7 linked regions of the Homo sapiens genome follow. The protein of the gene in region 1 purifies or fractionates together with the protein of each later gene. This does not show direct contact. Each region holds a gene or a part of one and is shown on either strand. Other genes may lie near its edges.

Region 1 (3,500 bases):
TGTTGAATATGATGTTACTTGTAGGTTTTCTGTAGATTCCCTTTATCGAGTTGAGGAAATTCTCTTATATTCATAGTGTGTTGAGTGTTTTTTATCATGAAAGGGTGTTGATTTTTTTTTTAAAGATAGGGTCTTGTTCTGTCACCCAGGCTGGAGGGCAGTGGCATGATCATGGCTCACTGCAACCTCGAATTCCTGGGCTCAGGGGATCCTCCTACTTCATCCTCCTGAGTAGGTGAGACTACAGGCATGAGCCACCATGCCCAGCTAATTTTTTAATTTTTCTGTAGAGGTAGGGTCCTGCTTTGCTGCCCAGGCTGGTCTTAAACTCCAGGGCTCAAGCAATCCTGCCTCAGCCTCCCAAAGTGCTGAGATTACAGGGGTGAGTCACTGCACTGCACCCAGCTGTGTGGGATTTTTCAAATGCTTTTTTCCTTTAGATGATCATGTGTGGTTTTTTTCCTTTCATTTTGTTAATGTGGTATATTGATTTTCGTATGTTGAACCATCCTTGAATTCCTCAGATAAAGCACGCATATTCATGGCGTATTATCTCTTTATTATTATTATTTTTGTAGAGATGAGATTTCACTCTGTTGCCCAAGCTGGTCTCAAACTCCTGGGCTAAAGTGATCCTCCTGCCTCAGCCTCCGAAAGCGCTGGGATTATAGGCATGAGCCACTTGGCCCTATCTTTTTTCTTTTTCTTTTTTTTTTTTTTTGAGACAGAGTCTCACTCTGTCGCCGGGCTGGAGTGAGTGGCGCGATCTCGGCTCACTGCAACCTCCATCTCCCGGGTTCAAGCAATTCTCCTGCCTCAGCCTCCTGAGTAGCTGGGACTACAGGTGCCCGCCACTATGCCCAGCTAATTTTTTGTGTTTTTAGTTGAGACGGTGTTTTGCCATGTTGGACAGGCTGGTCTTGCACTCCTGACCTCGTGATTCACCCACCTTGGCCTCCCGAAGTGCTGGGATTACAGGCGTGAGCCACCGCAGCGAGCCTTATCTTTTTAACAGTTAAAAGTTTAAGGCCTTATCATGTAATAACATTGCTGGATTTGATTTGCTGCTGTTTTGTTGAGAATATTTGCATCTGTATTGATAAGGGATATTGGTCTGTAGTTTTCTTTTCTTGGCATGTCTTTGTATAGCTTTGATGCCAGCATAATATTGGCCTCATAGAATGAGTTAGGAAGTATTCTTTATATTATGGGAAGAGGTAAAAAGGGATTGGTGTTAATTCTTCTTCAAATGTTTGATAGAATTCAACAGTGAAGTGATATATACAATCATATATAGAGAGAGAGAGAGAGAGAGAGAGATGGACTTTTCTTTTGTTGGAAGTTTATTGACTATTGATTCAATTTCCTTATTGAAATTGACTTTTCTTTTTGGAAGCTAAAACGTATAACTGTAGTGAAAGTTTCTGAACTTTTCTTTCATTGGAAGTTTTTTGACTACTGATTCTTTATTTGTTATAGGTCTATTCAGATTTTCTGTTTCTTCTTGAGTCAGTTTGGTCTCGCTCTGTCGCCCAGGCTGGAGTGCAGTGGTGCCATCTTGGCTCACTGCAACTTCTACCTCCCGAGTTCAAGTGATTCTCCCACCTCAGCCTCCCCAGTATCTCGGACTACAGGCGCACGCCAGCATACCTGGCTAATTTTTGTATTTTTAGTAGGAACAGCATTTCACCATGTTGGCCAGGCTGGTCTCGAACTCCTGACCTCAGGTGATCCACCCGCCTCGGCCTCACAAAGTGCTGGGACTACAGACATAAGCCACCGCGTCCAGCCTTGAGTCAGTTTAGATAGTTTGCATGCATGTTTCTAGGAATTTGTCCATTTTGTTTATGTTATCTAATCTGTTACCATACAATTGTTCATAGTATCCTTTTATAGCCCTAGTTATTTCTGTAAGATCAGTAGTAATAGCTCCACTTTCTCTCTTGGTTTTAGCAATTTGAGTCATCTCTTTTCTTCCTCTTTTTTTTTTTTTGAGATGGAGTCTCACTGTGTCACCCAGGCTGGAGTGCAGTGGCATGATCTTGGCTCACTGCAACCCCTGCCTCCCAGGTTCAAGCAATTCTGCCTTAGCCTCCTGAGTAGCTGGGATTACAGGTGTGAGCCACCACACCCAGCTAGTTTTGTTTTGTTTTTTTGTTTTTGAGACGGAGTCTGTTTCTGTCTCCCAGGCTGGAGTGCAGTGGTGCAATCTCACTCATTGCAACCTCCGACTCCCAGATTCCAGCAATTCTCCTGCCTCAGCCTCCTGAGTAGCTGGAACTATAGGCGTGCACCACCACGCCTGGCTGATTTTTATATTTTTAGTAGAGATGGGATTTCACCATGTTGGCCAGGCTGGTCTTGGACTCCCTACCTGAGGTGATCCGCCCACCTTGGCCTCCCAAAGTGCTGGGATTATAGGCATGAGCCACCATGCCCAGCCAGTTTTTGTATTTTTAGTAGAGATGGGGTTTCTCCCTGTCGGCCAGGCTGGTCTTGAAATCCTGACCTCAGGTTATCCACCAGCCTTGGCCTCCCAAAGTGCTAGGATTACAGGCATGAGCCACCACGCATGGCCTGTCTTTTCTTCTTGGTCATTTTCGCTAAAGGTTTGTCAATTTTGTTGATCTTTTTTGTTGCTGATCTCTATTGTTTTCCCATTCTGTTTCATTTATTTCCATTTTAACCTTTGTTTCCTTTTTTCTGCTGGTTTGGGTTTAATTTGCTCTTTTTTTCCCCTAATTTTTCAAGGTATACAGTTAAGTTATTGATTTGAGATCTCTTTTTTCTTTTCTTTTTTTTTTTTTTTTTTTTTTTTTGGTTGCTGTTGAGATGGAGTCTCCCTCTGTCACCCAGACTGGAGTGCAGTGGCATGATCTCAGCTCACTGCAGCCTCCGCCGCCCAGGCGATTCTCCTGCCTCAGCCTCCTGAGTAGACGTTTCCCGGCCAAGGTGTTTCTTTTTGAATGTAAGCATTTACAGCTACAGATTTCCCTCTAAACACTGCTTTCACTGCATTCCATAAGATTGTTTTTTGTTGTTGTTTTGTTGTTTGAGACACAGTCTCACTCTGTTGCCGTTTGGAGAGCAGCGATGCGATCATAGCTCTGTAGCCTTGAGCTCCTGGACTCAATCAGTCCTCCTGCCTCAGCCTCCCAAGTAGCTGGGACTACAGGTGTACACCACTGCACCTAACTAATTTCTTTTATAAGTTTTTGCAGAGGCCAGGCACAGTGGCTCACACCTGTAATCCCAGCACTTTGGGAGGCCAAGGTGGGTGGATCACCTAAGGTCAGGAGTTCGAGACCAGCCTGGCCGACAGGGAGAAACCCCATCTCTACTAAAAATACAAAAATTAGCTGGGCGTGGTGGCAGGTGCCTGTAATCCCAGCTACTCAGGAGGCTGAGGCAGGAGAATCGCTTGAACCTGGGAGGCAGAGGTTGCAGTGAGCCAGGATCACACCATTGCACTCCAGCCTGGGTAACAAAAGCAAAACTCC
Region 2 (3,076 bases), on another chromosome or scaffold:
TCAGCAGTTCTTCTCTAAAAGCATTACTGATAGAGTTGGGAGCATCTATGATGGGGCATAGAGCTAAGAAGGAAAGCTGGTGGGATAAGGGTATAGAAGGCAGACGCCTGGGAAATGTGAGAAAAAAACAGCCAAGATAGGAAATATTTTCCCTGAGTTAGAGTTTCCAGGGTGGTGTTTTGCTGGATCCATTTCTGACTTGGTTTCTTCCTCTTTAATCTCCCAGGGGAGTTTGAAGAGGAATCAAAGCAGCCAGGGGTGTCTGAGCAGCAGCGCCATCAACTGAAGCACCGGGAACTTTTTCTTTCTCGGCAATTTGAATCATTACCAGCCACCCACATACGGTACAGGACAACTGGGGCCAGCATAGCCTGCGTGCACTTACGTAGAAGATGGAGAGAAGGAGGTGGTATTGAGAGATGCTGTGGGGAGGGAGAGTGGGGCTCACCGGGGTTTTCCAATCTCTCTCCTATAGGGGGAAATGCAGTGTGACCCTCTTGAATGAGACAGATATCTTGAGCCAGTACCTGGAAAAGGAGGTGAGAAAGAGATGTTGAGAGAAGAGCGAGGGGAATGGGTATTGCCCGCAAAAGAGAGGGGGAAAGGAGCACAATGATGAGGTACAGGGTTGCCAGACTGCCGGTCATGGAAACTCAGATACACCTCCCTCCCCGCCGCCTATGTGGATTGCTGCCTTGCTTACCTTGTCTCTCCCCAATTCCAGGACTGCTTTTTTTACTCACTGGTGTTTGACCCCGTGCAGAAGACACTTCTCGCTGATCAGGGCGAGATTAGAGTTGGTTGCAAATACCAAGCTGAGATCCCAGATCGCCTAGTAGAGGGTAAGCAACAGGACAAGACTGTACGGCTACCAGGTTGTCTAATTCCAAGGGGCACTTTAACATTATAGTCTCTGTGAATGGCGTCACCTGGGGTTGTGCAGTGCACTGTCTGCAGGGCTCTCTGCCATGACCCTGACAGAATGGGCCTGTAGGAACCTGAAAAGGGAAAATGGGAACAGTTGGGAAGAGAAGTCGGAGAGTTGATAGAATCCAAGCAGAAGAAGAGAAGGAGGAGGTGCTATTGTGAATGAAAAGACACCAACTGTTCCCCCCTGCCCTCTCCCTGTTGATGCCATTGTTCTTTTCCCCAGGAGAATCTGATAATCGGAACCAGCAGAAGATGGAGATGAAGGTCTGGGACCCAGACAACCCTCTCACAGACCGGCAGATCGACCAGTTTCTTGTGGTGGCCCGGTGAGGGGTGGGTGGATAGGGAAGATGGGCTGGGGGAGGTGTGGACATTGTTCTGAGTCCCATGGTTCTTAGAGATGGACTTTATTTCTTTCATTGCCATGGATGTTTTCCTTCTTTCTCCTTTGGCTTAATTTCCCAGCCCACTTGGGCTTTTGACTTTTCTTTCGCTTTTGACTTCTCAATTTCTCCCTTAGAGCTGTGGGAACCTTTGCAAGAGCCCTAGATTGTAGCAGCTCCATTCGGCAGCCAAGCTTGCACATGAGTGCAGCTGCTGCCTCCCGAGATATCACTCTGGTGAGCAGAAGTTGGTGGGTAGTTGGGCAGGCTGGGTTTTCTGGGGACTTGCAGAGCCTGGGAACAGAAGAGGAGGGTATCTCTGAGGGAGTGGGAGTGTTTTTTTTTTGTTTGTTTTGTTTTGTTTTGAGAGGAGTCTTGCTCTGTCGCCCAGGCTGGAGTGCAGTGGCGCAATCTCAGCTCACTGCAAGCTCCGCCTCCCGGGTTCACACCACTCTCCTGCCTCAGCCTCCCGAATAGCTGGGACTACAGGCACCCGCCACCACGCCTGGCTAATTTTTTGTATTTTTAGTAGAGACGGGGTTTCACCGTTTTAGCCAGGATGATCTCGATCTCCTGACCTCGTGATCTGCCCGCCTCCGCTTCCCAAAGTGCTGGGATTATGGGTGTGAGCCACCGCGCCCGGCCGGGAGTGGGAGTGTTTTAAGGAGCAGGAAGGGAGTGGTGCCAAAAGTTTCAGGTCCTCAGTTGCTCTCCATCTTCCCCATAGTTTCACGCCATGGATACCTTGCAAAGGAACGGCTACGACCTGGCTAAGGCCATGTCGACCCTGGTACCCCAGGGAGGCCCGGTGCTGTGTCGGGATGAGATGGAGGAATGGTCAGCCTCAGAGGCCATGCTATTTGAGGAGGCCCTAGAGAAGTATGGGAAGGACTTCAATGATATTCGCCAGGATTTTGTAAGTGGATGGCACTAGGAGGAGAAGTGGGAGAGATGACAGGTGAGGGAACCAGGACCTGGGGCCAGATGCCAGCTCATTCTTCCTCCCTCTGCCCCCCTTAGCTACCCTGGAAGTCACTTGCCAGCATAGTCCAGTTTTATTACATGTGGAAAACCACAGACCGGTATATTCAGCAGGTATTATCTGGGCTGGGGAGGGTGGACCATAGGCTACCTGCTGACCTCTGCCTTTGAAGTTGATGACATTCTCCCTGCTATGAGGCTCTGATCCTTCTCTTTCTTTTTACCTTCTTACAGAAAAGGTTGAAAGCTGCTGAAGCAGACAGCAAACTGAAACAGGTCTACATTCCCACCTAGTAAGTGTGGTGGGTAGGGGAGACCAGAGTGTTTTCCTTCCCTTCCCCTAACTTGTGCCTTCCTCAGTGATTGGGGGTGGGCAGGAGGTAGGGGCACACTGAGAGTGGAAATTGATTCTTTTCCTTGACCAGTTTCTTGTTTTTTTCCCTTCTCCTCGCCTTCCCCGTTAGCACTAAGCCAAACCCTAACCAGATCATTTCTGTGGGTTCAAAACCTGGCATGAATGGGGCTGGATTTCAGAAGGGCCTGACTTGTGAGAGTTGCCACAGTGAGTTACGGGGGCACTGGGATGGTGGGGATGGGTGGAAGGCCTGCTGTGGCTCAAGAATCTGAGGGGCTTAGGTAGTATGCTTCTTCCCTGTCCCCCTCCTCTCCGTACTCTACAGCCACACAGTCTGCTCAGTGGTATGCCTGGGGCCCACCTAACATGCAGTGCCGCCTCTGTGCTTCCTGTTGGATCTACTGGAAGAAGTATGGGGGACTGAAGA
Region 3 (3,500 bases), on another chromosome or scaffold:
TATCTCTGTCAGGTATGACATTAATTACCAGGTGGTATTATACTCTACTTTGAGTTTGGACATCACTTTCAGTTAAATTTCTGTTGTTATTGTGGCTTTTTTTTTTTTTTAACCCCACTGAAGATGGAAGTAGAGCAGTCTGCCATCTCCTGCTGTTCTTTCTCTGTGCCCCCTAATTGCTTGGTAATCTAAAATTATTCTGACTTTCCACATACTGTCTTTAAAAACCAATTGTAGCAATCTGCCCGCCTCCACCCTTTAAGCTAAATCTTTCACTGTGCTGGATACATAGACACTCGATAAATGTGTGATGATAGTTCTAAAATAATTATGCTATATATCAGGGTTCTGTATTTTTGAGCAATATCATTATTCCTATGCTGTGATGTTAAATGGAATTTATTTTACACTAGTAATAGACTGCTTAAGTGGCTGATTTGAAACCTTTCTCTAAAAAAACAAAAACATCTGGCAGATGAGTGACACAAATTCATTCTCTTAAAGGATAGAATTTCAAGTTAAGGATAAGGCACAATAAATAGGCACATAGAGGACATCTGTTTTTGTTTTTGGTTTTGGTTTTGTTTTTTTTTGTCTCTCTGACTAGCTAAACTGCCAACTAGAAGAATGGTTGTTATGTAGTAACTCAGAAGAATCTTTTAATAAGTTTCTTCTTTTGTTTCAAAACAAACTTGAGCTTCATTTCTTGCCACCTCTATTCTTTCTTCCCACGTTGGGTGACTGAACTGATGCTTATTCTAGTTTTAGAAGAGGATCCACATTTAATGTAAGGCATAAATATGCCTTTTGCAAATTATTGCTTGTTCTCCAGTGAACATTTGATCATATTCAACAGAAATCCACCATATAAACCATAATCCTTGAATTGCCCCTTTTAAAATAGATTGGTTAAAACCAAAAACCTATAAGAGAGAAATGATATTTCATTGTATTGTAGGTTTGGGAATCCTGGTTAGATTTATAATTTCTGGCCGGGTGCGGTGGCTCATGCCTGTATTCCCAGTACTTTGGGAGCCCAAGGTGGGTGGATCACCTGAGGTAAGGAGTTTGAGACCAGCCTGGCCAACATGGTGAAACCCCATCTCTACTAAAAATACAAAAAGTTAGCTGGGCATGGTGGTGCGCGCCTGTGGTCCCAGCTACTCGGGAGGCTGAGGTGGGAGAATCCCTTGAACCCAGGAGGCAGAAGTTGCAGTGAGCTGAGATCATGCCATTGCACTCCAGCCTGGGCAACAGAGCGAGACTTCATCTCCAAAAAAAGAAAAAGAAGAAAAAGATTTATAATTTCTGAGTCCCCTAAGTCCCTTTCTCAGTTTGCAATAATCTTACGTCCATGCTATTGACACTAATTTTGAAACTGGAAAGCTAATTAATGACATATTCATGTGTTCTTTCATCTAATAAACATTTATTAATGTATAGTTCTACACCAGGCATTCTGAAGGGTCCAAAAGAAAGTTCCTGCCCTCTAGTAGCACATAATCCGTTATTTCTCAGCACACCATGCCATCTGTTTATCATTCAGCAGTTAAGTAATTCATCACTTCATATTTTTACCAAAGTATATTTACAAGTCTGTTTATCTGGATCTGGCAAACTGGAAAATGTTTGAAGGGATACTCAGGCTTTGATCCATGCCAACATGAAAGGACTCCAAGCACATTTAAGTAGGCTGGTCTTTTCATCATGCATGATTTTTTTTTTAGTGCAAATTTAGACTTTAGTTTGGGAAAGAGAACAGTATACAGTATCCTTTGTAAGATAAATCACAACAACAAAAATTAAGTTTTATTGCACAAAGTAGATAAATGAGAAAGTCTTTCTTAAAAAATGCTTCTTTAACTGTAACAGCAAAACTAAATGCATATTTTATCAACCCCTTATTTCTAATTGCTGTATTCATTTCCACCCTTAAACTATTTAAGCATTTCATCTGCTGAAAGTCCTTATATACATGGTAGACGGAATATTTCTCCATTAATGATAGATCAAAATGAAGATATTTAAAAATTAACAAAATCAGGCCAAGGCAGGAGGATCACTTTAGCCCAGGAGGTCCAGACCAGCCTGGGCAACACAGCGGGACCCCGACTCCATTTAAAAAATTAAAAAAAAAAAAAAAACTTTTAACATTTAAAAAATAAAAATTAACAAAATTTCACTTATTCCAGGACACGCTGGCATTTGGACTCAATGAAAAGGGCACCTAAAGAAAATAAGGCTGACTGAATGTTTTCCATAATTTTCACACAATAACAGTCCCTTTCTATCCAGCTTGCCTTCCATTTATCTCTAGGGTTAGCTTTTCAGGCAACATCCTTGGTCATTGCCCAGAAAGTACCTGAGCTATCAGTGATTGGAATGGCACAGGAAACCGAATCACATGGGTGCCCTCCCCTTGGTTTTCAAGTATCTTGGAGTTGTGCACAAAAATTAGGTCATGCCTTCAGTGTCTTGTTCTTTAAACCTACCCTTTGACAATCAGGTGCTAATGATTGTATACTATTAAAACCAGCACATAAGTATTGTAAATGTGTGTTCCTCCTAGGTTGGAAGAAATGTCTTTCCTTCTATCTGGGTCCTGTTAAAGCGGGTGTCAGTTGTGTCTTTTCACCTCGATTTGTGAATTAATAGAATTGGGGGGAGAGGAAATGATGATGTCAATTAAGTTTCAGGTTTGGCATGATCATCATTCTCGATGATATTCTCACTTTGTCGCAAATCTGCCCTTATCGTAAGAACAAGTTTCAGAATTTTCCCTCCACTATACGACTCCAGTATTATGTTTACAATCCATTGGATGAGTGCAGCATTATAAGACCTTGGTGCCCAGAAAAATCTGTCCTTTTTGGTACCAAACCTGAGGTCTTTTGGAAGATAATGTAGAAAACCACTACCTATTGAAGGCCTGTTTTGGCTAATCTGTGCAAACTCTGATGATACCTGCTTATGTGGATTCTTTTCCACACTGCTTTCATTTTTAAGTATAAAGACTTAGAAAACTAGAATAATGCTTTTACAAATAATTAAAAGTATGTGATGTTCTGGGTTTTTTCCTTCTTTTTAGAACCCTGTATTTAAACAAGCCTTCTTTTTAAGTCTTGTTTGAAATTTAAGTCTCAGATCTTCTGGATACCAAATCAAAAACCCAACGCGTAAAACAGGGCAGTATTTGTGTTCCTAATTTTAAAAAGCTTTATGTATACTCTATAAATATAGATGCATAAACAACACTTCCCCTTGAGTAGCACATCAACATACAGCATTGTACATTACAATGAAAATGTGTAACTTAAGGGTATTATATATATAAATACATATATACCTTTGTAACCTTTATACTGTAAATAAAAAAGTTGCTTTAGTCACGTGGGTTGTTTTTTTTTTCCAATTTTTAAAATGCTGAAATAGTTTTGAACCTACAGGAAAGTTACAAAAACAATACAAATCTTCTTCACCCAAACCTTCCAGTTGTTAAC
Region 4 (3,500 bases), on another chromosome or scaffold:
TCCCCACTTGACTCTTAAAGAAGGTTCCTGGAGGGCCGGGTATAGTGGCTCATGCCCGTAATCCCAGCACTTTGGGAGGCTGAGGCAGGAGGATCACTTGAGCCCAGAAGTTCAAGACTTGCCTGGGCAACATAGCAAGCCCTTCTCTCTACAGAAAAATTTAAAAATTAGCCAGTTGTAGCAGTGTACATGTAGTCCCAGCCACTCGGGAGGCTGGAGTGGGAGGATCGCTTGAGCTCAGGAGGTTGAGGCTGCAGTGACCCATGATCATGCCACTGCACTCCACCCTGGGCAACAACAAGACCTCATCTCTTAAAAAGAAAAAAAAAAGGTTGCTAGGTGGTTTGAACAGTGAGAGAATAGTAAAGGCTTGCTCCCATCTTAGGGGAACTTTAATAACAGTGTTTAAAACTGTGTTAAAGTGTACTTTAAAAACAGTATTATCTCAACCATGTTTAAATTCTGATCTTTTTTTTTTTTTTTAACAGGTTAAGAAATATCCTCTCAGTTGTCGGTACTGATGCCTTGAAAAAGACCAAAAAGGATGATGAGAAGTCTAAAAAGTCCAAAGAAGAGGTAGAACATGTCTTTAACTTCACAGTATAAACATGAAGGAAATGAGGGGATAGGTCTCTCGTTTTCTGCTTTCAATGGTTTGTTTTGCTGAGATGTTGGGGGAAATGTTTTTGAAGGCTCTACCATTCAAGAAGAGTTGCTGGCAGTAGTTTTGGTTCCTTTGTAAGTATGAATGGAGCTAAGTGAGTTTTCCAGTCAGGAAAGAATCATGGCATTCCTGGTATAACCATGTAGTTACATATCATAGAAAAAAATTCAGTAGAAAGTCCTCTGCCTGATTTCATCCTATTACCGAATGAATTCACCTTCCTTCTGGGCAGTTAAAATGGAGAAATGACAGTTATAAGAGGAGTAGAATGCTTCAGATTTGACCTTTCTGCTCTTAATTTGCCTTTCAGTATCAGCAAACCTGGTATCATGAAGGACCAAATAGCTTGAAGGTGGCAAGACTATGGATTGCTAATTATTCGTTGCCCAGGTAAAGAGAGCCTCCAGTAGAAGAAAGAAGCATATTTTTTGTGTGTGTTTCCTCTCAGGAACTGAGTGCTGGATAATGACTATGGTTGTTAAATGAAATTGAGGGGTAGAGTAGGGATACATGTGGGTCCTTGTTTACAACCCTGTTGCTCCTGGTGATGGTGTTTCTGTGTCGCAGGGCAATGAAACGCTTGGAAGAGGCCCGACTCCATAAGGAGATTCCTGAGACAACAAGGACCTCCCAGATGCAAGAGCTGCACAAGTCTCTCCGGGTAAGATGCTCCCAGCAATTGTCCCACATCTTAAAGGTTCTTCATGTTTATTTGATTTTTCTACTTTGGCTCACCTCTGGGAAGGTAGAGGCAACTAGAGTGATTCCTCCCTGCTTAAGTTGAGCTGCTGTGACATGGAAGGAGCCATCAGTTAATGTGGCAGGAGCTTACTGTGCTTTGTATTCAGCAGAGGCCTATGGTTCTATTCTTTATTTCTCCCCGTTAATATGTCAGAGTTTCTCTGGGGTTTTCTGTTTATATTTAGCTGACTCAGAAGTTGTGATCCTAAGACTGTAGAAAACATCTGGGCACAGTGGCTCAGTCCTGTAATCCCAGCATTTTGGGAGGCAGAGGCAGGCGGATGACTTGAGCCTCAGGAGTTTGAGACCAGCCTGGTCAACATGGTGAAACCCTGTCTCTACTAAAAATACAAAAATTTGCCAGGTGTGATAGCATGTGCCTATAATCCCAGGTACTTGGGAGGCTGAGACGGGAGGATTGCTTGAACCCGGGAGGCGGAGGTTGCAGTGAGCCAAGATCACGCCACTACACTCCACCCTGGGCAACACAGCAAGACTCTGTCTCAAAAAAAAAAAAAAAAAAAGACTATAGAAAACAGCATGCTGGAGTTTCATATAACTTCATTTATCAATGTATGTGTCTTCTAACAGCAGCAACAAAACCATAGAAGAATCTTGGGATGGGTTAAAACTGAAAAGCTGCTTTGTTGTTCTTTTTATGGTGGAAAAGCAAAGGAGCTCTTAGATTAACCTATTAATGATCACCGTGTGTGTATTTTTTTTCTTTTTAAGTCTTTGAATAATTTTTGCAGTCAGATTGGGGATGATCGGCCTATCTCCTACTGTCACTTTAGTCCCAATTCCAAGATGCTGGCCACAGCTTGTTGGTAAGTTCCATTTTACAATGACATTTTTTCCTAAATGGGGAACAGGCTCAGGAAGAAAATTAGCATTTGCGTTAGACGTCTATTTCTACGTCCTCTTTCTCTGCTTCTCATGATCACACCAAACTACAGATGTCAGTCAGTGCTCTACCTGTTGTATAATACAATGTAGCCTTGGTTTAGCCGTTCTCGCTCTTCACCAGTGACCCCAGAGATCCATTACACAAAGCACTCTGTCACATTCTTGACACTAGTATTTTGGAACAGGTCCTGTAGTGAGTTTATAGACCAACTAGTATCCATAACTCAGTCTGGCTTTTCTTTTTCAGTTATGTGACCTCGCTAAGATACTTAATTTCTGTAAGCTTCAGTGTTCTTACCTGTAAAGTGGGATGAGGTAGTGTTTGCAAGGCATTTTGCCTTGACAGTGCCTGGTATGTAGTAAGGACTCGTTAAACGTTAATTATTGGTTTATCTTTGTTTTATTTTCTTATCACCACATATGCAGAAAACTCAGGATGTGGTAACTTTGTTGTTTTGTTTGAGTTTGGTTGTGTTTTTCTGTGGGACATGGCTATCTAATGAGAAAGGAAACTTAGATTGAATACACAGGAGCTACTTGACTAGGCTGACCTTTAGATGGGTTCAGGAGAAAGCCAAGGTTCTGCACAAATGAGTCCACCTCTCCAAGCCTCATTACCTTCACTATAAAGTTTGATCGTTCCTGCCGTACCTGCTTCACAGGTCTGTTAGAAAGATCATCCGAGATAATAGATATAAAAGTAATTTGTTGAAAAATTTCCAAAATAAGAAGTCTCTAAAAAGTTTAAGGCCAGCCAGCCATGGTGGCTCACACTTGTAATCCCAGCACTTTGGAAGGCCACGGCAGGAGGATCACTTGAGCCCAGGAGTTTGAGACCAGGCTGGGCAACAATAGTGAGACCCTGTCTCTACAAATTTTTTTTTTTTTTTTTTTTTTTTTTTTTTTTTTTTTTTTTTTTTTTTTTTTTGAGACGGAGTGTCACACTTTCGGCCAGGCTGGAGTGCAGTGGCGCGATCTCGGCTCACTGCAAGCTCCACCTCCTGGGTTCACGCCATTCTCCTACCTCAGCCTCCCAAGTAGCTGGGACTACAGGCACCCGCCACCGCACCCAGCTAATTTTTTGTATTTTTAGTAGAGACAGGGTTTCACCGTGTTAGCCAGGATGGGCTCGATCTCCTGACCTTGTGATCTGCCCGCCTTGGCCTCCCAAAGTGCTGGGATTACAGGT
Region 5 (3,500 bases), on another chromosome or scaffold:
AATTCTCTGGTAAGTCTTATCCTGAGTGTTTTAGCGGGGGTGGGGAGCACAGTTCTCCATATATTTCCATATATTTTATTATTGAAACAGAGTATACCAAATACCATAAGCTCTGTACTTTTATCCAAATATACATGAACTCCCATGAACTCTAAAATTTGGTACAATAGCCATCATTTCAAAATCTTCAGCAACGTGTTCTACCAGTATCTCAACAACAGTTGCTAATACAGGATACTTTTCAGTTTTACACCAAACTCAAATTATTTATCTATATATCATTTCAGCCACTGTTACCAAACAAGAAGAACAAGAGTTTATGACTTTTTGTCTTTTATTCCTAAACCTCAAAAGGAACTTCTAAAAATGTATTATTAACCTTAATAAAATTTTAAGGTACTGGATTATGACTGACAATCACTGAAAAACATCAATAAGTCTGTCTTTATATTCTGAATATTTAGTTTTTAAATATCTCAATTTATAAGATTAGCCCATAATATCATTAGTAAATACCTTCAGGTACAATGTACTCAACAGTGTATATAAGTCCATATTTTAAATAGTATTTTTAGTAATTCTAAGCTATTTTTTATTACTGCTTTTTCATCAATCTGATGAGATCACCATTGTTTTTATATTATGCATTTGACTGACAAGTTCATAATATAAATAGAAGTATCCACTCTGTTTCTTTCTGGCTGTTCACGTGTATTTGTATTATTACTTCAATCTTCTGCTGACTCTGAAACTTCAATCTGCATTTTCTTTGCAGGAATCTTTGTGAGCCATCTGTCTATTTAGCAAAGTTCATTTTATTCAAATCAGGTAATATGATCTGAAAGACCACTAAACCCAGCAGAGGTGAACTAAAACATGTGCTAAAACAATATAAGCAGGTAAATAAGGAGGATCACAGTATCAGCCCCTCCAGGCGGTGGGGTTCCCTAGCTTACCGTACGTGACAGACATCATCAGACACACAGATGAAGTAAAGTGTCAACCTATGGGTCAAATACTGGTAAAACTTGATTGCTCATATTTTCTTGTAACACCCTGCCTAGAGGATCATTTTACATACCTCCCACTTTGGAGACTATTGCTCTTTTTAAAAGTAGGTGAGAAGACAAGACCGTGCTGAGCTTGAGGAGATTTTCAGGATTAGGGGTGTTAGAAGTAGAGAGGAAACTAAAGTCTAAGTGGTCAGGTAACTTGGCCTGAAGTTGCAAAGCTAGGAATCTGCGGAGTTGACCATGACGATGCTAAAGCGCTAGAGCCCATTTTCTTTCTATTGTGTCACATCGCCCCCTCCAGGGCAACATGAGGCCTCAAGGAATAAGGAAAGAACACAGGTCCCAAAACTGTGGTGCTGGATCAGACCTTAAATCATGGAGCTAAGTAGGATCTGAAGAGAGTGCAGCAAAAAGTTTGGATCCTTGTTAGTTCTTACACTCTGTTCTATTCATAGAAAATAGAGTGTTTCACACCTGGACTACGTCTACACGCAGAAGTTACGTAACTCCCACAGTAAAGACTAAAGGAAAAGGAGAGAAGGCTTTGGAAGTGTCTCCAGGATGTCTCTGTACATGCCTTTGTGTTAAATAGCCTTTATTTCCTTTCCATCTTTTTGTTAATTTCTTAACCCTGCCAGCTCTCAGCTACGTCAAAGCATCCAAGTATTGAAATTTCTTATGTAAGTTCACCACCTCCCACCATCTCCCTGTCAGTTTTTCTTTGGATGTCCATTTAATTAAGAAGTCAGTGAGGGGCCAGGCGCGGTGGCTCATGCCTGTAATCCCAGCACCTTGGGAGGCTGAGGCGGGTGGATCACGAGGTCAGGAGATGGAGACCATCCTGGCTAACACAATGAAACCCAGTCTCTAATAAAAATAGAAAAAAATAGCCAGATATGGTGACATGCGCCTATAGTCCCAGCTACTTGGGAGGCTGAGGCAAGAGAATCCCTTGAACCCAGGAGGTAGAGGTTACAATGAGCTGAGATCGTGCCACTGCACTCCAGCCTGGATGACAGAGCAAGACTCCGTCTCAAAAAAAAAAAAAGTTAGTGATGACTAAGACTCTCATTAACACTTAGTTACAACAAGCCAAACTTTATTGAAAGAGAACTTCCTTGCTTATTTCAGAAAAATTCTCAAATATTCTTCCTTTAATACTTCTTTTCTCTTCTCTTTCAGATTTAAAAAAAAAAAAAAAAGGCCAGGGAAAATAAATGTTCATAAAACCTTAAAGATTTGCTTTTTACAAATCTGAGAGAGTTCTCTAGGTTCCAATAAAAAAATTCAGTAACTGCACTCCACTACAACAAAGAGTTCTGAGTAGCTAAATAACCTCACGGGGCTGTGGTAACTCTTAAATCAATATCATGTAAAGCATTTAGCACAATGGCATCCAGTAAGAGCCCAATAAATGTTAGCTACTATTATTGATATTATTAGGTACTATTCAAATATAGTGAAGTTACGATGATATTTAGTCCAAACCTGATTACTACAGCATTTCAGCCCTATTTTAACTTATATATAATGTTAGTATACAAAAATTCAAGTTTAAAATGTGTTTTCTTTAAAGGTTGTGAGGTTTTTTGTTAAAAGTGAATTAACAAGTAAATCATATACATCTGTTTCTCTCAGTTACCTACAACTCAGAGAGATCTGTCCTATTCTTGACATGTTAAAGAAGGGAAAAAATAATTTCAAGAAATGCCCCAAAAAAAGGCCTCCATAAAATTCAACACCCAATTAAAAATATTTACCAAGAACAGAAGAAAACTTCCTTAAATTGACAAAAGACATCTTCCAAAAACCAACAGTAAACATCATATCTAACAGTGAAACACTGGAAACATTACCACTCAGGAAAAAGATTAAAATGCCCATTATTATACTTATTCTTGTACTGGAAGGCCTAGGCAATGCCATAACAAAGAAAAAAGTCTTTGTATAAAGTTGAGAAAGGAGCTTGGCTAATTAAATCTTCTAGAAAGTGGCCAGTAAGTACATTCTTTGATGCATCCTCTCTGCTCTAAATACACAATAATGGATAAAATATTTTTTAACAATTTTTTTTAATTAGGCTCAAAAACAAGATAAACCTCTATTTGGAGAAACAGAATAGATACACAAAGTTGCAAGCAGGACTGAAGCTCTAGGCTTGCTGGATCCGGAGTCTAGACCAGGTGTGCACTTCCTGCAGGTAGTAATGACAGAAAGCAAAGGAGGATGAAGAAACGGAGATATCTGGGCCAGACCCACTGCTCAAGGCCAGCAATGATGCTGGAGCTGAAAGGAAGCTAAAAAATACTGCTGCCAATCTCTGCCTAGAACTACAGTTTATCTAATACTCTAGGCTTAGATAAGTGGGAAGATATAAACAGCCTCAGGACCATACTCTATGAGAGGATCGAAAATAGCCCAATTAACTCAAAGGGCAGGACCCTTGACCCACAATTATCATATCTGATTCTAGACTGAGGCCCAGTA
Region 6 (3,500 bases), on another chromosome or scaffold:
CAAACACAGTTGACAAAATCTCTGATGTTTCCATTAAAAATCTTCAACGACAAAAGAGCTCTACCACATCAAACTACCCAGCATCTATTAAAATGAGAGTATTCTGGCTGGGCATGGTAGCTCACGCCTGCTGTTATCCTAACACTTTGGGAGGCCAAGGCAGGCAGATTGCCTGAGCTCAGGAGTTTAAGACCAGCCTGGGCGACAGAGCGAGATTCTGTCTCCAAAAAAATAAAATAAAATAAAAATAAGGCTGGGCAGCCGGGCACAGTGGCTCACGCCTGTAATCCCAGAATTTTGGGAGGCCAAGGCAGGCGGATCACTTCAGGTCAGGAGTTCGAGACCAGCCTGGCCAACATGGTGAAACCTCGTCTCTACTTGAAAAAAAATAAAAATAAAAATAAGGCTGGGCACAGTGTCTCACGCCTGTAATCCCAGCAGCACTTTGGGAGGCCAAGGCAGGTAGATCACCTGAGATCAGGAGTTCGAGACCAGACTGACCAACATAGTGAAACCCCATCTTTACTAAAAATACAAAATTAGCTGGACGTGGTGGTGCATGCCTGTAATCCCAGCTACTTGGGAGGTTGAGGCAGGAGAATCATTTGAACCCGGGAAGCGGAGGTTGCAGTAAGCTGAGATCCTGCCATGGCACTCCAGCTTGGGCAACAAGAGCAAAACTCTCCAAATAAAAAAATAAATAAATAAATAAAATAAAATTAAAAAAATAATAATGAATAAAGTGAGAGTATCCTATATCACCTCTGGGCAGAAGCATCATGCATACATAATTATTCTACTGAAAAACAGCTTTTTTTTTTTCCTTTTTTACAAAGGGAGGTAGTGCTCGCTTCAGCAGTACATATACTAAAATTGGAACAATACAGAGAAGATTAGCATGACCCCTGCACAAGGATGACATGCAAATTCGTGAAACGTTCCATGTTTTTGAATAATTGCATCCAAAAAAAAAAGGGAGAGGGGTAGGGAATGTTTCTGGGAACCAAATGAAATTCATGAATGTTAAGTATCCACCGTATAAGGGATGCTAAAAAGCATTAATATCCCTTTCCTTCTGATGGCTCTGGTGAGGTCATACAGCCACTATACAGTCTCCACAACTGCTTTCAAATGGCTCAGCAAAAATAAAATTCACTTATAGAGTGAAAAAGAAGGTAAATGTGGCAAAATGTTAACAATTGGTGGGTCTAAAAAAAATTCTTAGCCCATCAGCTTTAGCATCTAATGCCAAAGTCCTCCCACTGGTTGTAGTCGAGAGCAGCTAGCCCTCCTCCCAAACTGGAAATCAGATCAGAGGCCCCAGATGGAAACAGGTGCCTTTAACATTCCCCCAGAGCATCCTGTGGCTGCCTTACCCTCATTGGCTCCTTTCCGAAGCTGCTTATAGTTACATGACTGCTGAACGAGGTCCAGTAGCTTCTTGGTGAGGTGGGCATCGGCAAGGGGATAGGCCTTTGGATTCACATCAGCCTCAGTCTATGGGGGGGACATAAAAATATCAGACAAATTGAGCCAGAAGTTTTCCTACCTGAGTCACAAAATACTAATCAACAATTGAGACACAGGGGGCAGCTGCCCTGCTCCCTAACCCTCAAACACACAAAACACCAGGTAGTTAACAATGGACTTTCCACTCCTACCTTCGAAAAAAAGGAAATACACTATTAGGAATTACACAGTTCAGTAAAGTATACTAAAGCTCATGTACTTTTGTCTTTCTTCAGCCGAATGTTTGATAATATTACAGCAAATGGATTACAAACGGGTTCCCATGGCTCCGCATCCATTTGAGTCCATGGCTAATCCATTTCTGTTTTTATTTTTTAGATGGAGTCTTGCTCTGTTGCCCACGCTGGAGTGCAGTGGTGCGATTTCAGCTTACTGCAATCTCTGCCTCCCGAGTTCAAATGATTCTTGTGCCTCAGCCTCCCAAGTAGCTGGGACTATAAGCGTGCACCACCATGCCAGGCTAATTTTGTATTTTTTGTGGAGACAGGGTTTCACCGTGTTGGCCAGGCTGGTCTCAAACTCCTGGCTCACGCCTGTAATCACAGCACTTTGGGCGGCCGAGGCGGGTGGATCACCTGAGGTCAGGAGTCCATGGGTAATCTTTAAATTTGAACTTCCGTATTCCACCTGAATTTACTGAATCAATAAGATATAATTTACAGTAAATGTAGCACAAAGTTTTCTTTCCATTCCCCACTCCATATGCGTATCTTCTGTTCAAACCCATGGTTTCCAACACATTAAAGTATTTCCTCACCTCCTCTACAATACACACAAAATGGTTCCAAAATTGCTACACCAATATACCACCTCTACCAACAAACTCACCAAAGTCAAAATTTATTTTTGTTCTTAGGATATATCCTATCAAAGCCATCCAGTGGCAGGACTTTGTTCAAAAGTTATTCAAATTAAAATTTTCCTTGTGGTTAGCAATTTGGTATACAAGTAGATTTATTTTGTAGTCAGCTTGCTTTAAATTTTATTTTTCAAATATGTAAAATATCTTCATGGTTTAAAAGTCAAAACTATGCAAGTGATAGCAACTCAATATTTTGAAAACTGGGAAAGGGAAACAATCATCTTCTGTGCCTTTCCTAAATGCTGTATTAGGCGGTAACCAGGTAGAAGATGAGAAGTACCTCTTGTATCACTCTTCCGCCTAATAAATAAAGAGGGAATGGTACAGTTAAATATCACCAACTTGCAACCCTTATTAACTAATTAATGGCATTTGCAGTTATGTTAAAAATTCTTACTTTATAGATATATACTGTAATACTTATGGATAAAATGATGTCATTCAGATCTGTGTCAAAATAACCCATGTAGGGGACGAGCGCGGTGTCTCACGCCTGTAGTCCTAGCTACTCGAGAGGCTGACGCAGAATAGCTTGAACCCAGGAGGCGGAGGATGCAATGAGCGGAGATGGCGCCACTGCACTCCAGCGTGGGCGACAGAGCGAGACTCCGTCTCAATAAATAAATAAATACACACCCATGTAGGGAGCATATTGGGTGAGTGGCCTGCCTATTCCGCTCCTTCCATCTCATTCCCACTGCTCCAGTAAATCATTTTCATTAATTTTTCTCTTTTTTTTTTTGTTTTTACAAACACATATTTATATACAAGGATATATTCATATTATAACCCAGGTGCGGCCCCACATGTCGCCATCGTGTGTAACGTGCGAATCGCGAGTGATTCACTGCGGCTACCACCTAACCTCGGCCTTGGAGGCTGGACATAGGGTGGACGGCAGTCGCTGGAGACGGAGATGGCCTGGTGGGACCACTCATCTATAGCGCCTGCCTCGGTGGTCTCCTGCCCGACACCGCGCACCTGCCTTTTCCTCCTTCCGTTTTTTTACAGCTTTTCTGACACAGCGGGACCACGCTCGCGGCACCACAGCTCTCGGGAGGTGACCCGGAGATAATGGCCCAGTAGGAACACTCACCATAGCGTCTGT
Region 7 (2,903 bases), on another chromosome or scaffold:
GTGGTGGCGCATACTTGTAATCCCAGCTACTCAGGAGGCTGAGGCAGTAGACGCTTGAACCCAGGAGGCAGAGGTTGCAGTGAGCCAAGATCACACCATTGCACTTCAACCTGGTCAACAGAGCGAGACTCCGTGTCAAAAAAAAAAAAAAAAAAGTTTTCTGCCCTCAAGTCTTCTGGGGAGGCAGATGTTTAAACCAACAATTGCAGGCAGTAAGATTAGTGCTGATAGAATCATGCACATGCAGGATGCCATAGGAGCATGGGGAAGAGCACCCAAATATGGGAGAAAGGGGCAGAGGGACATTGTAAACATCAACCCTGCAGTAGAAGACAGAGCAAAGCATGATTTCTCTTTTCTCTGGCCTGATTTAATTCTAAGGTCAGACGTTCAGCTTGATCATAACCTGTTTATAATTATGACTCAGACCATTTTTCCACTCTTGGATCATTGGCCATTAATGATGAGGGGTCTCAAACAACATGTCTCAGTGACACAGTAAAGCAGAAATTGGCTGAAAGCAAAGCTGTTTTTATTTCTAGCTTCAGTCAGCACATAATGCTTAAAACCTAAAGAGGAAAGTAAAAGCGTGTTACAATCTCTCAAACTTTATCAAGACAGGGCTTAGAACCTGACATCCTCCGCTATGGTCATTCCATTTTGAAATGTAGAAAATCCAACTTGTGGATGGTTTGTCTGTAAATGAGCTGAATGTGTGTGCGTGTTCATTATCAAGCACGATATGCTCACAAATGCACAGTACTTTAAGCCTTGTGCAAGAAAGATGCTTTCAGTAAACATATTTAAAAGGTTTTATTTTCCTTACTAATGGTACATGCCCCTGCAAGTTCATGGAGAAGAGAAAAACAAGTGTGGGTGAGCTGATGGAGGCTTCATCTTAGGTGAGGAGGCAGGAGAGACACCCTCCCTTCACTTGTGCCATCCCCACGCTTTGTCCTTAAGCTGTAGTGGTCCCAGGAGATAACCTGTTTACAGCAGCCCATTCAGTATTGAAAAATGAACTCCCTCCTGCAGAATGTTAGAAGAAACAACCTCAAAGACCTCAGGCCGCCTGTGGTCATTAGTATGTGGCAGCAAGATTGAACCTGCCTGCCTCCTACCTGTGTGAGCCTGTGGTGTGGGTGTGGTACCAAGGCCCTGGCTCTGGGCAGTCTGTTGGCTCCTGGTGTTCACTAAGGCGTGGGGTGACAGGCCATCTGGCCTCGCTCTGCCAGTCTGCAGTTCTCCCCAGCACTGCATTCATTTTTAGTGGTTTCTGATAGTCACACTGAATTCCTGGACACTTTCTTCTCTTCATTCTTAGTTATCTTTCTCCTTTTTCTCCTGGAACTGATAGTTTACACTAAAACTTTTGGCTGTGAGGACTTGATTATACACATTTCTAAAACCCATGAACCTTAATATCTGACACTGTTACTCTCATATGCACACACAACTAAAACATACCAACCTACTTCATTTCCTAGCTGCTAAGATACAAGGGGAGGGACAATAAAAGGTTAACTGCAGAATAGCCACCTATGTGTCAGGAAATGGAGGGAGGGGAGGCAATGTGTGAGTCCTTTTGGAGCTGGGACTCAATCCACAACAGAGACAGCTCAAGCAGGGCCCTGCCATGGTCCACACTGAGGTTTCCTCTGCAGTGGTGCTGTCCACTGAGGGGTTATGGTGTGAGGGCCCCTGGGAGCCACGCCTTGGACTTCTGAGTCTGCAGAGCACTCGGCTCCAGCCAGCTGGATGGCAGGTGGTCAGTGGAGCTGGTGACTGGTGGTTTCTGCAATGAGGTGTCAGATTAGCCTAAGGGAAGCCTCTTCAGCAAGTATCATGCCTGGATCCCGGTCTTGGTTGTTTTATGAGAGGCCGATATGAATTGCCATTGCCTCCCACAAAGAAAAATGGACAAAATATGGGACCACATCTTTGAGATGAAATGTGCCCAAAATGAAAAGTAACTTGAGTATCCCAAGTTAAACTTAATCATTAGCTGCAAATGGACGATTTTCAAATTTCAAATAGTGATTTTTGAAGATTTGCCCAAACTAGAGTACTATCCCTCTTCACACTAAGAGGCAGAAAGTGGTTTCACACACCCTTTTATTTAATCAGCTAAAGTGGGTGCGGTGACACACACCTGTAAACTCAACCACTAAGGAGACTGAGGCGGGAGGATTACTTGAGCCCAGGAGTTCGAGATCAGCCTGAGCAACATAACAAGACCCTGTCTCAAATAATACTTAGCTATTACCCATATTGCTTTTAGCCTGCTGCCAGGAGGGGAGAAATGTTATTGTTTGAACAGATGTCAGATGTGAGTAATGCTCAGCTGTGTTCAATGTAGAAAATTAATAAAAGTTCCAGGAGTCATCCTGGCTAGATCAAGAAGCACAGTTGATGTTTCTCTGTCACTCAGCTCTGCTGAACTACATGGATTTCATTCGTGGGCAAGCTCTTCCCTGTAGCAGATGCAGACTTCCAGCCTACCTGCCCTCCAGCTAAAGTGGTCTCATCCTCCTTGCTTGGTCCCTGTGCCCATCTGTGGGCTGGTTTTTACGGCCATGAGAATGTGGGGCTCTGATTGGCCAGGCCTCAGTCACACGCCCATTTCTGGAACTAAGAGCAAGGTTATCCCCACCTGAGCTGTATGGTCTAAGTGCAGAAGGAGGGGTCGTTCTCTGAAGGAAACCAGAGGAAAGGGGAAATGGAGCTGGACACAATGCCTATTACACAGGAAAACTTTTAGTCTGCCCCAACTTATAGAAAAATCCCTTTGGTACTTTCCTATTAGTAACAAATTTCTTGGAACACACCTCAGACTGACACTATGACTTTAAGCTATTGCTCTGGAATCCAGGAGGTTCTGGAGCAACCTGTGTGGGGATCAG

The links.
Region 2: the proteins of ZGPAT (region 1) and MTA2 purify together in Homo sapiens (affinity purification with western blotting; 2 studies listed by BioGRID and IntAct, with this or other methods). This does not show direct contact.
Region 3: the proteins of ZGPAT (region 1) and SNTB2 purify together in Homo sapiens (affinity purification with mass spectrometry; one large-scale study listed by BioGRID and IntAct). This does not show direct contact.
Region 4: the proteins of ZGPAT (region 1) and PRPF4 purify together in Homo sapiens (affinity purification with mass spectrometry; 5 studies listed by BioGRID and IntAct, with this or other methods). This does not show direct contact.
Region 5: the proteins of ZGPAT (region 1) and DTNB purify together in Homo sapiens (affinity purification with mass spectrometry; one large-scale study listed by BioGRID and IntAct). This does not show direct contact.
Region 6: the proteins of ZGPAT (region 1) and SNU13 purify together in Homo sapiens (affinity purification with mass spectrometry, with the first as the bait; one large-scale study listed by BioGRID). This does not show direct contact.
Region 7: the proteins of ZGPAT (region 1) and LSM3 purify together in Homo sapiens (affinity purification with mass spectrometry; 2 studies listed by BioGRID and IntAct, with this or other methods). This does not show direct contact.

What each region holds. Positions count from the first base shown.
Region 1 is NC_000020.11:63,714,539-63,718,038, forward strand, and holds part of ZGPAT (zinc finger CCCH-type with G patch domain-containing protein), read left to right. Parts: intron 1-3,500. UniProt on the Homo sapiens protein: Transcription repressor that specifically binds the 5'-GGAG[GA]A[GA]A-3' consensus sequence. Represses transcription by recruiting the chromatin multiprotein complex NuRD to target promoters.
Region 2 is NC_000011.10:62,595,790-62,598,865, reverse strand, and holds part of MTA2 (metastasis-associated protein MTA2), read left to right. Parts: intron 1-226; coding exon 227-344; intron 345-475; coding exon 476-539; intron 540-724; coding exon 725-842; intron 843-1,153; coding exon 1,154-1,256; intron 1,257-1,450; coding exon 1,451-1,550; intron 1,551-2,040; coding exon 2,041-2,229; intron 2,230-2,333; coding exon 2,334-2,408; intron 2,409-2,528; coding exon 2,529-2,587; intron 2,588-2,758; coding exon 2,759-2,856; intron 2,857-2,974; coding exon 2,975-3,076. UniProt on the Homo sapiens protein: May function as a transcriptional coregulator. Acts as a component of the histone deacetylase NuRD complex which participates in the remodeling of chromatin.
Region 3 is NC_000016.10:69,305,664-69,309,163, forward strand, and holds the end of SNTB2 (beta-2-syntrophin), read left to right. Parts: 3' UTR 1-3,389; downstream 3,390-3,500. UniProt on the Homo sapiens protein: Adapter protein that binds to and probably organizes the subcellular localization of a variety of membrane proteins. May link various receptors to the actin cytoskeleton and the dystrophin glycoprotein complex.
Region 4 is NC_000009.12:113,282,158-113,285,657, forward strand, and holds part of PRPF4 (U4/U6 small nuclear ribonucleoprotein Prp4), read left to right. Parts: intron 1-488; coding exon 489-576; intron 577-974; coding exon 975-1,054; intron 1,055-1,231; coding exon 1,232-1,325; intron 1,326-2,137; coding exon 2,138-2,232; intron 2,233-3,500. UniProt on the Homo sapiens protein: Plays a role in pre-mRNA splicing as component of the U4/U6-U5 tri-snRNP complex that is involved in spliceosome assembly, and as component of the precatalytic spliceosome (spliceosome B complex).
Region 5 is NC_000002.12:25,663,578-25,667,077, forward strand, and holds part of DTNB (dystrobrevin beta), read right to left. Parts: intron 1-3,500.
Region 6 is NC_000022.11:41,678,868-41,682,367, forward strand, and holds part of SNU13 (NHP2-like protein 1), read right to left. Parts: exon of another isoform or gene 3,492-3,500; coding exon of another isoform or gene 3,489-3,491; intron 1,498-3,488; coding exon 1,377-1,497; intron 1-1,376.
Region 7 is NC_000003.12:14,198,720-14,201,622, forward strand, and holds the end of LSM3 (U6 snRNA-associated Sm-like protein LSm3), read left to right. Parts: 3' UTR 1-2,403; downstream 2,404-2,903. UniProt on the Homo sapiens protein: Plays a role in pre-mRNA splicing as component of the U4/U6-U5 tri-snRNP complex that is involved in spliceosome assembly, and as component of the precatalytic spliceosome (spliceosome B complex).